Regions from separate parts of the Homo sapiens genome. Here region 1 is linked to region 2. Evidence: fine-mapped expression QTL. A gene starts in region 2. The other region holds a variant in brackets. All regions are shown on one strand. Distances are between the middles of the regions. Region 1 has its middle 150 kb from the start of HACE1. Region 2 holds the start of HACE1 (HECT domain and ankyrin repeat containing E3 ubiquitin protein ligase 1).

What was found. PIP is the estimated chance that this variant, and not a neighbour inherited with it, causes the effect.
Region 1: its variant is the best candidate, but not a certain one, in a credible set for the expression of HACE1 in skeletal muscle (GTEx, PIP 0.63).

What each region holds. Positions count from the first base shown.
Region 1 is chr6:104,703,735-104,709,115 of GRCh38, reverse strand. No RefSeq gene overlaps it. Among named protein-coding and RNA genes, the nearest start is that of HACE1, 150 kb to the left of the region's middle. The variant C/T (reference allele first, on the strand shown) is at 2,111.
Region 2 is chr6:104,857,170-104,862,550 of GRCh38, reverse strand. HACE1 (HECT domain and ankyrin repeat containing E3 ubiquitin protein ligase 1) reads left to right here and starts at 2,632. Exons shown (of 24, transcript NM_020771.4): 1 at 2,632-2,984. The coding sequence starts at 2,909. It also overlaps the pseudogene LOC100422315. RefSeq lists enhancers at 2,543-2,837, 2,452-2,951 and a silencer at 2,574-3,203.

The sequences.
Region 1 (5,381 bases), 150 kb after region 2:
TCTTGAAGATATTGGTTTCAGCATAAAAATTTTAAAATTTGGTGTAGTCCAATTTATCTATATCTTTTTCTGTTACTTATGCTTTTGGCATTGTATCTAAGAAAACATAGTCAACCAAGGACAGAGATTTATATCTAAGTATTCTTCTGAATTTTATAGTTTTAGCTCTTACATCTAGGCCTATAATTCACTTTGAGTTAATTTTTGTGTGTGGTTTAAGGAAGGAGTACAACTTCTTTTGCTTTTCATGTGGATATCCACTTGTCCCAGGACCATTTGTTGAACAGACTATTCTTTCCCCATAGAATCATCTTGACACCTTTGTTGAAAAATCAATTGGCCATAGATGTATGAGTTTATTTCTGGACTCTCAATTCTATTCCATTGATCTATATTCTTATCCTATTCCAGTCTTGTATTGTCTTGATTACTGTAGCCTTGTGGAAAATTTTGAAATCAGGAAGTGTGAGTTCATCAAAATTGCTTTTCTTTGTGAAGTTTGTTTTGGCTATTCTAGGTCCCTTGCATTTTTATATGAATTTTAGTATTATCTTGTCAATTTTTGTCAAAAATATAGTTGAGATTTGACACGGATTGCATTGAATTTGTAGATAAATTTGAGGACTTTTGCCATCTTAACAATAACAAATCTTCTAGAGACCCACAAATACAGGATGTCTTTCCATTTATTTAGGTCTTCTTTATTTTAACAATGTTTTGTAGTTTTCAGTGTACAAGTGTTGCATTTCTTTTGTTAAGTTTATTCTTAAGTACTTTATTCTTTTTGGTTCTATTTTAAATGGAATTTTTCCTTAATTTTACTTTCAGAATGCTTACTGCTAGTACATAGAAATAAATACAACCAATTTTTGTATATTCATCTCAAGTCTTGCAAACTTGTTGAACTCATTTGTTATTTCCAATAGCTTTTTGTGAATTCCTTAGGATTTTATATGCACAAGTTCGTATTATCTGTGAAGAGAGATAGTTTACTTCTTCTTTTCCAATATGAATGTCTTATTTATTTTTCTTGCCTAATTGCCCTGGCTAGAACCTCCATTATGATGTTGAATAGAAGTGGTGAGAGTGGACATCCTATTCTTGGATGGACATCCTCATCCGTTCTTGCTCTTATGGGGAAAGCATTCAGTCTTTCATCATTAAGTGTAATATTAACTGTAGGTTTTCATAAATGCTGTTTTTCAAGTGGAGGGAGATACCTTCTGCCATGGGTTGAATGCGTCCCCTCCCAAATTCATGTTGAAACTTAATTTCCATTGTAATGGTATTAAGAGATGAAGCCTTTTGGAAAGTGGTTAGGTCATGAGGGCCTTGCCCTCATCAGTGGATTAGTGCCTTATAGAAGGATTGGGGGGATCTAGCTCAGCAGACCTTTTTGCCCTTCTACCTTCTACCATTTGAGGATACAGCGTTCACCTCTTCTGCCATGTCAGGATGCAGCAAGGAGGGCTTCACAGACACAGAATGAGGCCTTCCCAGCCTCCAGACCTGTGAGAAATAAATTTTTATTGTTTATAAATTACCCAGTCTATGGTATTTTATTATAGCAGCACAAATAGACTAAGGCATCTTCTATTCCATTCCCAGTTTGGTAAGTGGTTTTATCCAGAAGGGTTGTTGGACTTTGTTAGATACAATACTTTTACTGTGTCTATTGAAATGATCACGAGGTCTTTGTCATTTATTCTGTTTATATGGTTTATTACACTGATTTTTGTTTGTAAACAAACTTTGTTAACTTGCATTACTTGGATAAATCCCACTTGGTCATGGTGTATAATCCTTTTTATATGTTGCTGGGTAAGTTTGCTAGTATTTTATAGAAGATTTTCTAACTTATATTTACAAGGAACCTTGGCTTATAGTTTTCTTTTTTGTGATGCTTTTGCCTGGTTCTGGTATCACAATAATACTGGCCTCATAGAATGAGTTGGGAAGTGTTCCCTCTTGTTCTATTTTTTTTTTTAGAAAACTGCAAAGAATTGGTATTGTTTCAATGAGTGGTAGAATTCACTCAGAGAAGCTGTCTGGTCCTGAGATTTTCTTCATGGTAAATTTAAAATTAGTAACTTACGCTTTTTATCTGTTA[C/T]AGATTTACTGAGATTTTCTATTTCTTCTTGAGTCTTGTTTTGTGTTTGCATTTTCTAGGAGTTTTTCCATTTCATCTAAGTTATCTAATTTATTGGTATATGGTTTTTCATAGTATTCCTTTGTAATGCTTTTTATTTCTGTAAGATTGATAGTGATCTTTCTTTTTTTCCTGATTTTGGTAATTTGAGTCTTTTTCTTTGTCAGTCTACACAAAATTACAGTAGTAATTTATCTATAGGACTTTTATGTGTAGAGTTTGCTTTAATACAGGAATTAAACAAAAATTCCTGAAGGCATTTCTTCTCATTTCTTGGTCTTCCCAGGATGTAACCTCCCCGTTTTCTCTCTACCATGCTCATAAGGATTGCTTACTCCTTCCTTTTATCCCCCAGTTATGCCATCCTCTTCTTTGTCCTTCAGGACACAATTTTGATCTCATATTCCAACATCTAATCAAATCAAGGGGTCCAGTGAAGTACATTTCAATGTCTGTGTGTGTTTCTTTGGTGTCTTTGCCCAATCTCGTGTAGCACTACTGACTCCAGCCTTTTTATTTTAAATTATCACAATTCAGAAATTCACTTTACTTCATAGACGTATTCTAAGTTTCATGCTTGGGAAGTCTATTTTGTTCATGCCATTTGAATTCAAAGTTTAACAACAAACTTGCTGCATCATATTTAGACACCCAGGATTTTGTTTCTGGAAGGATTTTAGAGATTATCCAGGATTAAGCAGCAGCCACTCAGTACCAGTCAGTTGTTGCCAGATGGGAATGAGAACCTACTGTGGCTGGATCTTCTCATTAAAACAAACAAACAAACATAAATCTGGATATTCGTGGGAAACCTCCAAATTTTTAAATGAAAGCAATGAATTAAAAACTCTTAAAACTGTGCTAACGTCAAGGACCCTGTTCTTTTAGTTTATTTGTATCCTGTTTTGTCCTCAGCACGCAATGGATTGGTAATGTTCTTGAAGAGTTTAGTTTAAGGAATTCTAGGAGATTATAGGTCTTGCTGTATCTTAAGAATGACATAAACAAAAAAAAGTTATTATCTTCCGCCCTTTAATATAAATATAGGCTATTTGGAACCAGATGGGTATTAAGAAGCTATGTGAGTGAACTTTCTTCCCTCCTTAAACTTTTACACTTGATTAACTAGTCATTTATGAAGTTGGATCTTCAAAGACACTTTATATTAGCCCTGGGAGTTGTCCCTTCTACTCAGCTAGAAATTGAAGTGATACTTTAAAATTAAGCATCTGTTCTCCTATTCAGCTCAAGCTTTAAGGATTGGTGTCTTCTGGAAGTGAGGTGTCCATAAAGAAGCATCCTGGGCAATTTGACATTCATAGAAAATGGCTTGGAAAACATGCCCATGGTGAGTCCAGCACCATTGTTCGAGGCAAAACTGTCAACATGTTTAAAGCCATCCTGGGAAATGACTAAAGACACGCACATTTTAAAAACTGAAAACGAGTGCTATTTGTTTTGGAGCTAGAGATAGAATACCCCTTTTGATCTTTTTCTTTTTCTCCCTGGCTGATCTCGGGATTTGATTTCTCTATTCAGAAAAAGAGCGTGGTTGAACATTTTGCTCCCTTAAGAGTTTCTGAGCCCTTAACAGCTGACTGGCATAGTCCATAGTTTCCTGATACCTTTCTTAAGATTTCCTTCCTGAGGAAACTGTGTCTCACAGAGGAGGAACGACGCCTCTGACCACATCCTGCTGTTCTTGTGTGTGGTTGAGCAGTTTTTATCAGATCTCAGGGAAAGGCAAGGTGAAGTCACCTCCTAACACTTCTCTTTTTTCCCTATAGACGTTTAGAACTAGAAGCCTTAGAGCTGGCACAACTGGATGTGTAAATATGTTTTGCCAAGTAAGGAGATCCATTTAAACAGGGACCATTTAATGGTGAAAATGAAAATCTTGAGCATTCAGCCTGGGAGATGACTGATGCTGGAGAATGCCAATAAATGTATAAAAATCTCTCTATTGAAAAATCAAAGTGCTTTTACATCCTTGTCTGTGACTTCTGTTTTTAATCCATTTAGGCAATGTTGATTTTTTCTCTCTTAATGAATAGCAATTGAGCTGTACATTTTACATACCAGTAAGTGACTACGAGATGCTTTTGAAAATTAGCCACCAGCAAGTACATTTCACATCTGAAGCAACATTTTGGCAGATGGACTCAGCTTAAAATTGGGACTGCCGTGAATAGTCCCAATTTCAGAATCAAGTTAATTCCATGTGGAACCCCACCAAACCTTTAGGCATTAAACGGAGCATGGTGTAAATCCTCGATGTGTACATTGCACTTGATGAGATGGCTGGCCATCCTAGTAAAAAGTGAGTCCAGAGGCTAGACATCTGGTGTGGTTGTTTTTGCAAAATACATTGTCACATTGCAGCATATAGAAAAATAATAATTGTCATTCTCTTTTGCCGCCATTCCTCCCAGGAGTGTGTTTTTGTCTGCTCTCCTGTCAAAATTATGTTAAACAGTAAAAATAAAAAATATGCTTCATAGTTTTCCAAACTTATCTTTCTCAGTTGGTTGCTCTTAAGGAATGTGACTTATGACCTCTACTTTTGGATGCTGCAGTTTCTTTCTTTCTCACGCATATAAGTAAGGTCTGCTCACAGGGTAAAGGAGGAGGATGTATGTTTTTCCAATGCCGACTTTCTTTTATTACCTGCTTGTATTTATATCAAAGAACATGTTGTATTTCCTCCTTTTCTGAAAGTCACTTACTCCACTTCATTTTGCTTTCCAGTTCTGGTTAATATTTATTATTTTGAAGTCTTAGTTTTATTTTCGTAAACGTTGAGATCTGTGACTTCAAATTATTATTCATTTACCCATTATAAATATCTTTTTTTTTTTTTTTGAGACAGTCTTGCTCTGTCACCCAGGCTGGAAGATAGTGGTGCAACCTTGGCTCACTGCAACCTCTGCCTCCCAGGTTCAAGTGATTCTTGTGCCTCAGACTCCCGAGTAGCTGGGATTACAGGTGTGCACCACCATGCCTGGGTAATTTTTGTATTTTTCGTAGAGACAGGGCTTTGCCATGTTGGTCTCGAACTCCTGGCCATGAGTGATCTGCCCACCTGGACCTCCCAAAGTGCTGGGACTACAAGCATGAGCCACCGCGCCCAGCCCATTATAAATATCTTTTAAGTGTTTAATTTACTGGAGTATCAAAATACTTAAATTGATGAAGCTAGTATGGCTTGTTTACCATGAATTCTAACTTTGAG
Region 2 (5,381 bases):
TATCTAAGACCTCTATGTTTTAGAGTAAACATTGAGTTTACTCTGTTTATATTTTCTGTGACCATGGATATATTTAGATTTATTTCTACTGCTACTTTATGTTTTGTTTTTATGACCATTTTTCTTTGCTTCCCACCCATTTCCTGCCTTTTGTTGAACAGATTGTTTTTCTCTTCTCTTTCCCTTAATGCTTGGGAATCTTCAATAAAACCAATTTCCAGGAAGAAAAAAATACCAGATATACAAAAAAGAAAGTTGAAACTGTCTGGGCCACAGAAGAACCTGGGTTATCATTAGTGAAAAACTCTACGCTTTTGTTAATGGAACTTATGATACAAAGTGCCCTTTTGAAACTTCCACTTGATGTTTTTGGTGTTGGTGACAGGTGAGAAAATCTACTCTTTAGCTAATAATAATCTATAAGAAGCTGTTTAGCTGTTTTGGTGTTCTCCTGGGCAGCTTTCTTCTTGGTGTGATAAGTTGCCCTGTCTAATACGGTAACCACAAGGCACATACAGCTATTTAACTTAATTAGTTTCATTACTTATACTTTAATACAAATTTAAAATTCAGTTGCACCAGCCACATTTCAAGCACCCAGTAACCCCATTTGGTTAGTGGATGCTATTTTGGACATTGCAGATTATAGAATATTTCTATCATTGCAGAAAGTTCTGTTGGACAGGAGGTGATAAGCTGATAGTAGTACTGCAGCTTTATACATTTTGAAGCAGAGCTATTGGGAGACGGCATCATATTGCAGAATTTGGAACTGACAATTCACATCAGCATTACCTGTTCCATTATCTTCTGCTCCTGTGGTGAACAGTGACCAGCATGAGATGCAATGCCCACCATGGAGGCTGCTGGGGGCTCCTACCCCTGCCCACAAACTCCAGGCTTGGTCCTCACAGGACGTTGGAGGTAATTTATATGGAGCAACAGCCTAGAGAGCAATGGTGATAACAGCAGCTGAGAGAAGCTGAGGGGCCAACTTCTGTACAGCAGTGGGAATCCTGACTTTTTGAATAGCATAAGAGGCCAAGCAAGACTGGAACATTTTTAGTTGAAGCCAGGTTGCAAATGGTTGAGCCTGGGCTAGACTGGTCCATAACGTCTGGTATTTCTTTCTTCCTTTCCTTTTTTTTTGAGACAGGGTCTCGCTCTGTCACCCAGGCTGGAGTGCAATGGCAGGATCTCAGCTCACTGCAGCCTCTGTCTCTCGGGTTCAAGCGATTCTCCTGCCTAAGCCTCCCGAGTAGCTGGGATTTCAGAGGCACACCACCACGCCCGGCTAATTTTTGTATATACATATTTTTAGTAGAGACAGGGTTTTACCATGTTGGCCAGGCTGGTCTCAAACTCCTGACCTCAAGTGATCCGCCTGCCTTGGCCTCACAAAGTGCTGGGATTACAGGCATGAGCCACTGCGCCCAGCCTCTGGTATTCTTTTGAAACTTTGACCTCTACCACCTTGTTGCCAGACTGGTTTAGGTATCATCTGATTAGGTGAAGATTACAGAGGTCTTCCCCGTGCCTGTGGCACCACTGGCACAAATGGTCACTAGCTGGAACTGATTTAGGACGGCACTGGCAGGGAAAACACATGCCAACCACCATCTGCCCCTTCATATCCTGAATGGGCAGGTGAGACTCTCTTTCACTTGGCCAGCCAACATACATCATCAACGTACATGTGCCCATTCATTTCAGGAACAGCTTTGTCTCTTTGAGGAAGAGAAGCTGAAAAAGACAAGCCTTTTGTTTCTCCCTCACTCCAGCATCATCTTGGCACTGGTAATATATCCAAGATATATTGGTGTTAGCCAGGCTCACATTTACCCCTTTGATTGGGTTAATTTTTTGAAGTTCCAACTTCTGTTGTTTCAAGTGTTCAACTTCTGTGCAGAGCTTATGAATATGATTTTTCGCCACTGAGTTCATTTCTTCCACAATGTAGGTATCCAAATTTTTTGTAACTTACAAAGTCAAATCCTTTGGATTTCCCACTAGGCTGTGTCATCACATAGACACTTTAGCATTGTACCAAATAAATGAAAAAATTTTTTCAGGTTGTCATCATTCATATCTTCCCCAGAGCTTTAACTTTGTGCTAGGTGCCTTGTTAAGTACAGGGATACAACACAGTTCAAGATTAAATGTCCCTGCCCTCATAAAGCCGCCCGGCAGGAAAAACAACTAATTAAGCTATTGTCAAGTTATTTACAATGAAGACAAAAGCACAATATGCTTTTGGATTTGTTTGATTTTATTACTCTTTAAGTTTGACATATGAAAATACCATACTTAAAACAGTTCATGTAGGGTACCTGAAACAAAGGCACTAATACAGTACTAGAAAGGTGGTGACGGATTTAAGAACAATTGTGCCAATTTCTAATCTGTTTTATAGTAAAGTTATAGAATTGGAGGAAACTGCTCCTGTACAACTTTGGAGGAGGGTAGGAGGAGCAGGGCGTGAGAATGCCTTTCCAGAAGCTTAGGAGTACGCCCAGTCGCTGCGTGGCTTCCCGCATACTCAGCCCTGCGCCCGCGTTGGCGTGGCCTGGGCGCCCCCAACGTGACTCCGCCCAGGGCGCTCCGTTCTGCCAGCTGGAAACTACAGTTCCCAGAAGGCCACGCGAGCCCGGGAGGGACGCGGCGGCGGGGGCTGCAGGAAAGGCGCGAGCAGAGGCGGCGGCGGGTGTACTGTAGGTGGTCGGTCCGGCAGCAGCCCGGCCCCCGGACGCAGGACGTGGCCCCAGGCAGCCCTCGCAGCTCAGTGCTCTAGCCGGGGCAAGCCCGCGTCTCCGCCTGCTGGACGGGCCCAGGCGAGATGTAGGGCTCTGGGCGCGGAGGCCGCCGGTGGGGCGGCTGATCGCGGAGGATCGCGGAGGGCGCGCCGAGGATGGAGAGAGCGATGGAGCAACTCAACCGCCTGACGCGCTCGCTGCGCCGCGCGCGCACCGTGGAGTTGCCCGAGGGTGAGCCGGGTCGCGGGGCCAGGCTGGCCGCGGGGCTGGGGGCGGCCAGTGGGGCAGGAGCTCCGGCCGCGTCAAGGTCGGGTGGAAAAACTAACTGAAAGCTGAGAAAACGCCCACTTTTACTTTCCAGAGCTGAGAGGCGGCCCCGGGCCCCGAACTCCCCTGGCCCGACGCTCCCACCCCGGCAGGTGGGAGTTTTCGGGAGGAAACTGGGTTGGTGGGGGTTCCGCTGCTGGGAGGAGCGAGACAAAGGTCTCGCAACGTCTGTCGATTAGGGGTCTTGGCAAAGGGGCAGGAATACCAGCCGGAGGCCCGAGACCCGGAGTCAGAAAACATCATAATTGCGGGTCATTTAACAGTAGCTGGGGATAGAGATGATCCAAAGATACTGTTTACTTTAAGCTGCATCGGGGGGCCAGGCGGGCTTTTATTTTTGTTATTTTTTAAAATGTGGGGCACTGCCTTGTTTTGATAACAGGCAAACAAAGGGTTGTCAAACATCAAACAGGTACTCTTAAAGTACTGTATGGGTAAACACAATATATTTTTCTTTAATATGCATGCCTGCCTTCATTCTTCATTTATTCATCAGACTAGTATTGAGTGGGCTAGCTGGTAACTAGGACGCATCTGCAAAGAGGAATAAGGCATGGTCCCTGAGGATCAGGACTTTTAGTTCAGCGTGCCAGGGTTCCCTCAGGACAGGTAAAACTCTGCTAATAACAAGGAGAGAAAATAAGCAGTTTTGTTTGCAGCGTCAGGAATTCAGACATTTTAGTGGTGATGGGAGACAGCAGTGCTGCTTCTAAGAAGCTTTTGGCTCTTTATGCCCAAGTGAGAGAAGGGTTGGGAGGAGGTTGTAGCTGGTGAATAGCTTTTTTCTTAATTGTAGTAGTTTATCTTACTTTTTCAAAACTCTCTTTGAATTGCTGCTGGGTGGTTTGTAGGATAGGGAAGGAGACCTTGGCAGACGGTCATGAAAGAAATGTGGGATTGGGTACTTTGGCGATAATTTTCTTTCCTTTCTTTTATAGAGATGAGGTCTCACTATGTTCCCCAGGCTGGTCTTGAACTCCTGGGCTCAAGTGATCCGCACCCTGCTCCCCCCAAAGTGTTGGGATTACAGATGTGAGCCACCGCGCCTGGCCTGGGGATAATCTTCTTGAAAAAATGGTCTCTAGTCTCTATTTAGAATTCAGATTTTGGTAACTAGATTCTAGCTTCAACTTTTTCTATATTTTCTTTCCAACTTCCACCTTTGAATCCATTTCTTAAGTGCTACTCTTACTTATTTTTCGTAGTCGAATTATTGGTATAGCTTTATGAAGACTACATGTATAATTTATATTGTCTAGTTTGAATCCCGATATTTTTTACATAAATGTGATTTAGAAGACTTTGATAATGTTACTTGGTTTTAAAAGTAATATAGTTTCATTGTAGAAAATTTGGAAAATAAAGAAAAATAGAAAAAAATATGTCATTTCACCATCCAGTTATAAACAGTGTTACCATTGTTATTTCTTTTTCCCTCCCTAACAAGTTAAAATCATGTTGCATATAGTCTTTTATTTTGTGTTTAGAAAACATCCTTTTTTTTTTTTTTTTTTGAGACGGAGTCTCACTCTGTCGCCCAGGCTGGAGTGCAGTGGCGCCATCTCGACTCACTGCAAGCTCTGCCTCCGGGGTTCACGCTATTCTCCTGCCTCAGCCTTCCCAGTAGTTGGGACTACAGGCCCCTGCCACCAGGCCCGGCTAATTTTTTGTATTTTTAGTAGAGACGGGGTTTCACCGTGTTAGCTAGGATGGTCTCGATCGCCTGACCTCGTGATCTGCCCGCCTCGGCCTCCCAAAGTGCTGGGGGATTACAGGCGTGAGCCACCGTGCCCCGCCCCAAATGTTTTTTTTTTTTTGTATTCTTCAATAGGCTTAATGACTTCAGAATTTCATAGGATGCATGTAACAAATGTTGAATCTAAATACTGTTTTTAAACTGATTTTATGAGAAACAGCTTTGTATTTAAGACATAGTCTGCCTCTAAATACTTCCTTAGGGTTAATTCTTACAAGAAGAATATCTACAATACATTTCTAAGGCTCAACATATCAGTTTCTCAACTTACTCCTTGGAAAGTTCCACCAGCAGTCCGAGAGTGCCCAGAAACTAGAGTATTATTAGTAAAAGTAAAACTTTTCCACATAGGCAAAAATGGCATCGTTTGCATTTGCTTTTCTTTGATTATAATGTTCATTTTGTTCCTTGAATTTAATTTATCTTTGTCTCTAAGCTCTGATGAGTCTTTGAATTCTCTGAGCTTGGCTCTTTAAAGTATATCATACATATAGGAATATATATATATATATGTAAATATATATGTAAATATATATGTAAATAAA